Linked DNA regions of Homo sapiens: region 2 is linked to region 1. The links come from fine-mapping of genetic effects on gene expression. A gene starts in region 1. The other region holds a variant in brackets. All regions are shown on one strand. Distances are from middle to middle.

Region 1 (5,373 bases):
TAAAAAGGACTTTAGCATGAATTGTTAAAGTCCTGTTGTCTTGAGGTGTGGGATTGGGTTAGGGATCTGAGGCATCCAGGTTCCTGTCCATAACTGACAATAAGAAGAGAGATGACCTCTAAGTCCATACTGTTCAATACGGCAGCCACTAGCCACCTGTGGTTGTTTAAATTTATTAAAATCAAATTCAGTAAAAAAAACTCAGCTTCTTGTTTACATTAGACCCATGCCAAGGGTTCCATTGCCGCGTGTGACTAGTGGCTACCATATTGGAAGCACCACTCAGACATGGGACATTTCCACCCTCAGTGCAAGTTCTATTATTAGACAGTGCTCATGCTGACCTAGGTAGATGGAAACCAAGAGATGGATTGGAAGAACCTTCCTAGAAATTATATTGCTGTTCGTTCTGCTTCTTGGGGAATGCAAAAAGGAAAAAAAAAAAAGTGGTGGGCATGGAAACTCTCAAGGTTCCCCTGGCTGTGGGTCAGTGTGTCCTTCAAGGGAGCTTGTTGTCACAGCAGGACGAGTTCAGAAGAAACCTGCTGTTTAGCTAAAGCCATGAAGTTGCTGCTGAGACTAATTTTATGCCACCCAACCCCCAAGCCACTCCAATGTCCTGCTTAAAGTATAGTAATTGCCTCGATGCAATCTGTTACTGTAAATTATTTACAGCTAAATGGCTTAGAGCCTGGTCTTTATTTGTTTTGGAGAAACTGATTCCTCACTATTCTAATTTTCCTTATGACTCAAATAACTTCCTTGGCCCTGACTTTCATTTCACCTCTACACCTAGAATGGAAGTTGTCCTCTTCCAAAGTGAGTGGAAAAAAACCCTAGTTGGCTGAATGCTAGGGTTAGGTTCGAGCTTATGAAATTGCCATTGTTATAGGTGAAAATTGTTCAATATCAGCAATTTTCTGTGGTTCAAATGGAATAGCCCCGGTGAAAATTCCTAAGAATTTAAACATCGCCCTCCTCCCTTATAAGCAGAGCCAGAAGCGAGGGAGGGACTGGCCCTACTTGGGGCTATTCCACAAGAAAAGCTGCTGGGAAGACCCAACGATTCAGTGCAGTTAAACTTGTCTTCTGATTCTGAGCTCCCATCATAAGCAAGGCACTGTCGGGGTAAGTAGAAAGAAACTCAGCACTCTTATTTGGGGAGGGGTGAAGTTGGAAAATAAAATGAATGTGCTTACCATAATTGCTGACATTCACTGTGTGTGTTCTATGGGCTATTTCTAAGTTCTTTACATGAAATTACATCAATTCGTCTTGACAAGCACTATGATTGTCCCCATGAGATAAAGGAGGAAACTTGGCATAGAGAGGTAAAGTCATTTGCTCGAGGTCGCATAGCTAGTGAGTCATGGAAGCTGGACCTGGGTTCAGGCTCAGCGGCTCAAGAGTGCACGTCTTGAACCTCAACACCAACACCCCTGGCAGTGGCTACAGAAGAGAGTCTGAGGATGAGAGGGGCAGACACAGGACTTTGGGGGCAGGGTTGGTTTTGGGAGCAGGAGTGTTGCAGGGCATAGAGAGTGTGGTGGTGTTCTGAGGTGGCTGAGAACAAGATCAAAGCCAGGAGCAGAAGATGGTAACCAAGGTCCCTCTGCCGTGAGTTGCAGAACCCGGCCTGGCAGGGCAAGGCAGGGGATGTAGATCAGCCTTCCAGCCTCCACAGGAAAATGGGGAGATAACCCAGCATTTCCAGTGCCCGGGGAGGCAGGAGGGTGGGAGACAGTGAATGGCAGCCCTCCTGGCAGTCAGGTTTTGTGAAAGTCGCAGAGAAAGTACAAGGGGCAGGGAGGGATGGAGGACTTAGGAAAGGGAAGGTCAGACACAAATGTGCACAGGGAGGATTGCAAAGCACGACAGCCCAGTGGGGCTGAGAAGGAGCCTTCAGGACACAGCGGACCAAGAGATATCATTTTGGTCCCCTGATGGGTGAGACTCCAGCAAATAACTTTTTCCTTTCTTTGTGGCAAAGGCCAAGAGAGGTGGCTGCTCCTGCCTTAGCTGAGGAATTGAGTATCTGATCTCCGTCTCAGGCCAACCTAAGACCCCCCCTGCCCCAGCCCCACCTCCCACCCCCTGCCTAATCCTTCAGATGAGAAAGTTCTGTTTCCTCCTTCCTTTGCGCAGGACCAACCCTGGCCAAAGAATCTTCCCCCTCCTCCTTCTTTCCCTCCCACCTCTCTTCCCTCCTTCCCTCCCCCTTCCCAGCCTGGCCATGAATAAAGCTCATAACGCTACCTGCCGAGCAAGCCGAGTGGAGGGAGGCAAAGGCCAGGCTGAGGATCAGGGTGGCCCGGGTGGCAGCGGGGAGGCGCTGCATGCTGGAGGCTGTGCTGAGTGCCCGGTGCAGGTGAGCCGGTCCTGCGGAGTTGTGCCGAGTGCCTGCTGCAGGTGAGTCGACTCCCACCTGCAGGAGCTGGAAAGCAACTCTGCCAGAGGTGAACTTATGCTGGGTGTTTGGGGGAAACACCATGGGGTGGAGCAAAGGAAACTTGGCCTGTCACACCTTCTCTCACCTCTCTAGAAGGGAAGCCAAACCGTTGGCTGAGGAAGGAAGGGAGGGGCAAGCTGTGCCCTTCTCCCCTGAGCGCAAATATTGTCCTTATTGAGAAACAAGGGGAGGACAAGAGAGATCTGTGTCATGCTGGTTCCTGGGACATGAGTTTGCTGCCTCTCCCATCTGCAGGTGTAGCATGGATGCTCAATTCCATTTGGGCCAATATTCACTGAGCACCCACTATGCTGAAGTTGGGAGATACCTGCTGTCGAAGTGCGTTAATTACAAACACGCATCATTCAACCCCAGAACCGTGTTTGAGGAATGGCTTGGGAGGATAAAGCACTGTGGGTTTCAACAGTGGAGGCCACATCTGCTGATGGGATGCTTCAAGAAGAAAATGGCATTTGAGGTTGGGCATGGGGGCTCACCCTGTAGTCCCAGCACTCTGGGAGGCTGAGGCAGGTGGATCACTTGAAGTCAGGAGTTCAAGACCAGCCTGGCCAAAATGGTGAAACCCCATCTCTAATAAAAATACAAAAATTAGCCAGGTGTGGTGGTGCATGCCTGTAGTCCCAGCCACTTGGGAAGCTGAGGCAGGAAAATCGCTTGAACCCGGAAGACAGAGGTTGCAGTAAGCTGAGATGCTCCTGACCCTGCATTCCAGCTTGGCCGACAGAGGGAGACTCCATCTCCAAAAAAAAAAAAAAAAAAAAAAAGAAAATGGCATTTGGCCTGGGCCTTGAAGGATGGCTAGAATTTTGACAGGGGGAGAGGGGAAGATGGCATTATAGGTAGAGGGACAGATGAGCAAAGGTCCAGAGGTAAGGAAGTGTCAGAGGGTGGCTGTACCAGCAGCACCCAGAAGCGCAGGTGAGCCAAGGCATGTGAGGTGGGGAGGCAAGAGGAGAGCTGTGGGCTAAGCTTCTGCGTGCCTGGTAGAGGAATTTGAAACAAAGTCAGGAAGCAAAGGGGAAGGTTCTGTAGAGATTTTGAGCTGAGGAGTAACTTGACTAGAGCTCTGCATTCCGTCTAAAACATTTATTGAAGACCCACATGTATATAAAAGGTCTCATCCTAGGCACTGGAGACTGAGATGACTGAGACACGCCTCTTCCCCTTGAGAGCACAGTGCAGCAGGGAACCAAACCCGGAAGAAAGAAATTTGATGCAACCTGGCAAGACTCAAATAGGGGTACCTTCCACTGTGATGGGAATAAAAAGGAGGATGGGATGAACTCTGCCTGAGAGGTATAGGGGAAGGATTCACAGAGAAAGTGACATTTGGGCTGGGTGCTGAAGTTTGTATGTGCAGATTAGAGTTGATGGGCTTTTCAAGTCAAAGGAATAGCACCTATAAAGGCGAGGGAATCGTCTGTGTGCACACAGCCTGCCATGTGTGGAAGTGTTCCTGCGCATGAATGGGCCTGGTAAGGGTGAGGGGTGGACTCCAGCTCTGTGGAAAGACATAGAAGGCGTGAGTAAGCCCCAAGGAAAGATTTCCTAGTGGAGTGTAACAGCCCAGGGGAGGCACTTTTTTCTAATTGGCTCTAAGATATAAAATAGTGGTGGCCTATGTTCCTGGATTTGGGGATAGGGCCAACGTGCCCTAGGAAGGGTGATTTTCAGTCAGTGCACAGAAGTCCAGTTTAGGCATTACCACTAGTTGAACATTAAACAGTTGCATGCCAGGCCAGGCTCTCGGTGTGGGGACCTGGGGGTGAGAAAGACCACACAGCCCTTGTGCTCAAGGAACTCAAGGTCCCCACAGAGAGGACGCTGCTTAGTAGAACAAATGCTGTCCTCGATGTTTTCCTCACAAGTAAACCCTGCAGTGGGCTTCACAGGGCAGGACTGATTTATCCAATGGGTACTAGGGATAACAGCGGTACGTGGAATCCCCAAGATTTCCAAGGATCTCAAAAATGTTTGAGACCTGAGAAAATATTCTCAGATCCAAAATTTGAAGAACAGACCAGGCATATTGGCACACGCCTGTCATCCCAACACTTTGGGAGGCCGAGGTGGGAAGATCACTTGAGCCAGGGAGTTCAAGACCAGCCTGCACAACATAGTAAGACCCTGCCTCCGCAAAACAAACAAAAAAAAACACAAAAAAATTACTTGGGTATGGTAGTGTGCACCTGTAGTCTCAGCTACTCAGGAGGCTGAGGTGGGAGGATCACTTGAGCCCAGGAGGTTGAGGCTGCAGTGAGCTGAGATGGCACCACTGCACTCCAGCCTGGGTGACACAGTGAGACCCTGTCCCCAAACAAACAAACAAAAATTTGAACAATCAAAAACTGGGCAAAATAAATGATTGTTTCAAAAGCAAAGTTATACAGTTCACTTGAAATGTTTAAACGGAAACGATTTAATGTGGGACGCTGGGTGCATTTTAATGTGTTTGACGTGAGCAGAGCCTGTCCCTCCTATGGAATCGGAACCTGAGGTATGCAAACATGTAAGATGGCCTGCCTGGGGTTATTGTAGTGGTGGATTGAACAGCATCTGCAGCCTAAGCTGAGACCATCCTATCAAGTCGTATCAGGGAAAGCTTTTCTGGCAAGCAGTGGATGTGGAGGAGGGGGATAATGTGTTGGCCCTCCCTCCCTATTTTATCATTGTTATGTGATGTCGGACTGTTTTAGATGAGCTGTTTGTAGGACAAACATTCTCCTATCTACAGATGGAAGAACTTTGTTATTCGAAAATAGTATAGGCTGGGCCAGGCACGGTGGCTCAGGCCTGTAATCCCAGCACTTTGGGAAACTGAGGCAGGTGGCTCATTTGAGGTCAGGAGTTCGAGACCAGCCTGGCTAACATGGTGAAATCCCATCTCTACTAAAAAAATTCAG
Region 2 (5,373 bases), 23 kb after region 1:
ACCTGGCTAAATTTGTATTATTAGTGGAGAGGGGAGTTTTCACCATGTTGGCCAGGCTGGTCTCGAACTCCTGGCCTCAAAGTGATCCTCCTGCCTCAGGCTCCCAAACTGCTGGGATTACAGGCGTGAGCCACCGCGTCCAGCCTATACTTCCACTTTCTAAGTAAGCCTCTTCTGTTTTTCAGATAAGGTCACTGAGGCCCTGAGGTTAAATAGCTTTCCCAAGGTCACGCATGGTAAATGGCAGAGCTGGGATCCTGACTCCAGTAGTTGGGCTGGAGCCTCTGCTCTTAACCATTAGGTACGTGTACTCTTTTCTCCACATGTTCCTGAGTGGTTTCTGAGCACCCAGACGTTTGAAAACTATGGCCCCACCCGCTGACTGGGAGACAAAGCAAACACCTGCCTTGGGGAAGAGCAAGATGAGAGGTAGGAGGGTGAAGTGGAGAGTGGAGGGAGGCACGAATTGAGGCCAGGGCTCCTAGTGCCTCTGGAGCTCATATGAAGGGAGAGGTAGAATCAACACAGTTCTTATCTTCCTGCTCTTCTTTGCAAATCTTGAGTTCAGCCTTTGGAACTTCATCCAGGTGTCTGGATTCTTGGACAGATCTGCCCTGGCAGGATGGGTGGGTGCAGCTGAGCTCCGCCTCTCAAGAAACGCAAGCAACTCCTTTCCTCCAGGGTACAGAGCAGGTGCTCTCTCAGAGGGCTGGGCCTCCACTGCCCCAGGTTCACAATCGCTGCCTCAGCTTAGCTGATTTTCCCAAACCGCCTACAGCTCCTCCCTGCTGCTTCCCAGCCTAAAGTTTGATTTCTCACCCTGTGTTCTCTAAACAATCGTTCTAATTTGATCATGCACAAGTATCACCTGAGGAGCTTATTAAAAATGCAAGTCTTGGCCAGGCATGGTGGTTCATACCTGTAATCCCAGCACTTTGGGAAGCAGAGGTGGGAGGATTACTTGTAGGCTAGGAGTTGGAGGCCAGCCTGGGCAACATAGTGATACCCTGTCTTTATGTTGTCATATTTTATAAAAATTAAAATAAAAAAATCAGCCAATGGCTGAGCACGGTGGCTCACGCCTGTAATCCCAGCACTTTGGGAGGCTGAGGCAGGTGGATCACAAGGTCAGGAGATCGAGACCATCCTGGCTAACCCGGTGAAACCCCGTCTCTACTAAAAATACAAAAAATTAGCTGGGCGTGGTGGCGGGCGCCTATAGTCCCAGCTACTTGGGAGGCTGAGGCAGGAGAATGGCGTGAACCCAGGAGGCAGAGCTTGCAGTGAGCCGAGATCGCGCCACTGCACTCCAGCCTGGGCGACAGAGCGAGAGACTGTCTCAAAAAAAAAAAAAAAAAAAAAAAATCAGCCCAATCATAGTGATGCACACCTGTAGTCCTAGCTACTCAGGAGGCTGAGGTGGGAGGATCACTTGAGCCCAGGAGGTTGAGGCTGCAGTGAGCTGTGTTTGCGCCACCACACTCCAGCCTGGACAACAGAGCAAGACCCTGCCTCTTAAAAAAAAATGCAAATCACAGACAATCTAGGAAACTTGAATCCTAGAATTAAGGCAAATTTAAGAATTATTGAATTTTAGGAGTGACTGGTATTTTATGTGTGTTTGTGTGTGTATATGTGCGTATAAAAGAATCCTTATCTTTTAGAGATACCTGCTGGAATATTTTGAAAGAAATAATATGATGTATGGGATTTGCTTCCAAATAATCAGAGGTGGGGAGGGGAAGTGGGTGGGGTGTGGATGATAGAACATTCATGAACTGGTGTGGCCAAGTAATGTGTACGTAGGGGTTCCCTGTACTATTTGCTGTACTTTTGCAGAAAAGTACAGAAAAGTTAAAAAAAAGCACCCCCCTCACTCATTCTGGGGTACCTTCTAAGGCCACTGGTGGGGAGAGTCCCTGTGGGGGATCTGTGCACCACCCTGGAGAAGCAAAGCTCATTCAAACAAACGCAGGTGGCTGTTGCAGCCCCGCACCCCTGGGCAAGAGAAATGCACCTAATTGGCTTGTTCTGCCCCTCGCACCCTCTGTCAAAGAAATAGGAAAAGACAAGACCCCTCCAAAGGAAAAGGGCACATATCACATATGCTTCTGTCTCTTTTTACCTGGGCCACAGCGGAAGCTGAATTTCAGCCATTGGGCATTTCATAAGGAGTCTTCTATTTTCCTTTGAAAGTAGAGTGTTTTGGTTAATAGTTGATAGGATGGTGAGTGTGATATTTTTTATTTTCCAAAACTATTTTAATTTTTTCATTTATATATGTATATACACACATATATACACACGTATATACATATGTGTATATACTATATATAATGTATATAATATATAATATATAATGTATATAATATATATAATGTATATAATATATTATATATATAGATATATATATTTATTTATTTATTTTTGAGATGGAGTCTGGCTCTGTTGCCCAGGCTGGAGTGCAGTGGCGTGATCTAGGCTCACTGCAACCTCTGCTTCCTGGGTTCAAGCGATTCTCCTGCCTCAGCCTCCTGAGTAGCTGGGATTACAGGCACCCGCCACCACACTCTGCTCATTTTTTCGTATTTTTAGTAGAGACAGGATTTCACCATGTTGGCCAGGCTAGTCTCAAACTCCTGACCTCAAATGATCCGCCCACCTCAGCCTCCCAAAGTGCTGGAATTACCGGCGTGAGCCACGGCGCCCGGCCCCCAAAATTATTTTTCAAAGTTATTTTGTTTTTACAAGTTCAAGGGATGTTTTGGTTTACTGGGGTCCTTCTAAGGCCTCCAGGAATCTTGTCCTCAACCTTCAGCTCCCTGAGGGGCAAGTTACTTTCATTAGAAAATAAATGAATGCTTCCTGCTGGGAACTTAAGGTCATGGCAGAGGGCACAGGTGGGGCGGGGGCTGAGCAGGCTGGCCGGTGGGGCAGGTTTGTCTTCACCCACAACAGGCCAGTGTTGATACAACAGAGCTGCCTCCTGGCTCTTTG[G/C]GAGCCTGGGAGGAGAAGGAGCCGGGAGGGGCGCTGCGGGGAAGCCACCTGCGGATTCACTGGCTGCTGCTCCGCCCAGGACTGCTAGCAAGCACGGAGGGCTGCCAGACCTGGGGCTCCCTGCTCCGTGCGTCAGGTTGGGGAAACCACCGTCTGCCCCAGACCCTGACCCAGGACCCGCCTGGAGGAAGCTGGGGTAAGAAGGGTGTTGATGCTGTGCTTTTGATCTGCATAAAGTGAATGCCTTGGGTCTCTGGTCTATGTTCACTTGGCTGTAGTTACTAGACAGGGCAGTAGGAGAGCTTTGAATTCATCTTGGTGTCAAAAGGCACAAATGTGGGCCCAGACCATGTGCACTTCCTGAGGGATGATGTTTATCCTCTGGTCTATACATGGGGTATTGCTTCTGGAGTACCCACTTTGTGGTGCTGTTGACCTAGACCGGTGTGGGAGTGGAAACAGGGAATGGTTCTAGCCTCGTGGACTTCACTGGTTTGTGTGTGGGGAATCCAGGCAGTTAAACAAGCGATTGCAAATGATTGCTCTTCTGGGGGCATGTAGGAGGGGGCTTAGCTCCTTGAGGGAGCTGGAGGTGTCAGGGAAGGCTTGTGGAGGAAGAAGATCCTTACATGGAGACTGGAGGAGTGACAGGGTCATGCGGGGCGTGGGATGGACGGTGGAGAGGAGGATATTGAGTTTCCAAACCCAGGGGAAAGCCTGGGCGAAGGGCCTGAAGGGGGTGGGAGCTGGGAGAAATGCAGGGTCCCTGGAGAGGCCAAAGCTGGAGGAGGACACAGAGGAGGCCAGGTCCTGCAGCCTTCGGCTGGCCAGCTCGAGGACTTTAGAGTTGGTCCTGTGTGAAACTGGGACAATGGGTAGGCCCAGTATCGAGCACACAGTAGATACTCTGTACGTGATAAAATTAAATCTACTCTGGAGGTGTGGAAATTCTTCCAGAAGGTTGACCTGGGGGGAAAAAGTGTGATTTGGCAGCAGTAGGGCCGTCGGGAGGATCTTTGGGAATAGCTTCTGTGCCCTCCTCCTCCCCTTGGCTCTCATGTGGCCTTCAACTTCACCATTGGAAAGAGCTTCACTTTCTTCCAACCCCTGGGAGGTGTCCTTCCCTGCCACCTGTTCTAAGTGACACTAAAGGCAGTCCAATGGGCAGCATGACTTGGATGGTCTATTAAGGAATGGAGAAATGTTCAGGAGTGACAAACTGCCCCACCCCAGAGTTTGGAATGCATTGATCGCTGCTGGGAGGCCTCTGATGACCAGGGCTCCGTTCCCTGGCTACGTATGCTGTGTGCGGGCTGGTGGCAATGGCTTCAAGATCATCCCCCAGTTTCACAGTTAAACTTTGGACATGCATCTGTTACAGTATGGTGGATGTTTTAATCTATTTCAGTCTAGATGTTTGAGATTCCCCTTTCAGGAGTGTGAGTCTTAGTCTTTCTTTAATCAGCAGTGTCAATACACACTTATGACTGTATGGTGGAACTGTGTCTTGCAGGTCAGTTTTGGCTAACCTAACTCGCACCATTCCCCTGCCCCACTCACCCGTGGGCATCCTTCTTCCATATACAGGACATACAGATTTATTTTATTCCTGCTGACTGCACAGGGCTCTGTTATATCACAGTTTATTTAATCATTCCCCTAATGATGGATATCTAGGTTACAGCCATTTACTATAATTATTACATACAATATTATAAGAAACATTCTTGTTCATCTGTTTCTCCATACATATCCAGGTCTATCTGGATAAATAGCAGTGGACATCTTGATTTGTGGGTATGAGGGATATAAGATTTGATAGACATTGATAAATTGCTCTCTGAAAAAGCTACAAAGAATTTACACGTTAACGTTGGATATACCCAATGGGCATATGGATTACCAAATCTCATTCTGATGACAAAAACTATTTTTCCTGACTAGGGAAATTGAAGACAAAGTATTCTGGAATCCAGAGTTGGTTGTGATACCCACAACTGAGTTCTAGAGTGACATTCGAGTGCATGAAAGGGCCTGTTTTCTCATACCCTCCACAACTTGAGTCTTTAGTCATATTTTAAAATATTTTGCCAGCTGAGAGCAGTGGCTCATGCCTGTAATCCCAGCACTTTGAGAGACCAGAGTGGGAGGATCACTTCAGTCCAGGAGTTCAATACCAGCCTGGGCAACACAGCAAGACTCTGTCTCAACAAAAAAATAAAACAACTAGCTGGGTGTGGTGGTGCACACCTGCAGTCCCAGCTACATAGGAGGCTGAGGCAGGAGGATCTCTTGAGCCCAGGAGGTTGAGGCTGCAGTGAGTCATGTTTGTGCCACTGCACTCCAGCCTGGGTGACAGAGCAAGACTCTGTCTCA

Evidence for each region. PIP is the estimated chance that this variant, and not a neighbour inherited with it, causes the effect.
Region 2: its variant is fine-mapped to the expression of ATP6V0A4 in nasal epithelium (TOPMed, PIP 0.91).

Annotation. Positions count from the first base shown.
Region 1 is chr7:138,795,070-138,800,442 of GRCh38, reverse strand. ATP6V0A4 (ATPase H+ transporting V0 subunit a4) reads left to right here and starts at 2,247. Exons shown (of 22, transcript NM_020632.3): 1 at 2,247-2,409. TMEM213 (transmembrane protein 213) reads right to left here and starts at 2,449. Exons shown (of 3, transcript NM_001085429.2): 1 at 2,257-2,449. The coding sequence starts at 2,338. RefSeq lists a silencer at 2,185-2,479.
Region 2 is chr7:138,771,637-138,777,009 of GRCh38, reverse strand. All of the region lies in intron 2 of ATP6V0A4 (ATPase H+ transporting V0 subunit a4), which reads left to right. Among named protein-coding and RNA genes, the nearest start is that of TMEM213, 24 kb to the left of the region's middle. RefSeq lists enhancers at 2,552-3,054, 3,055-3,558. The variant G/C (reference allele first, on the strand shown) is at 2,998.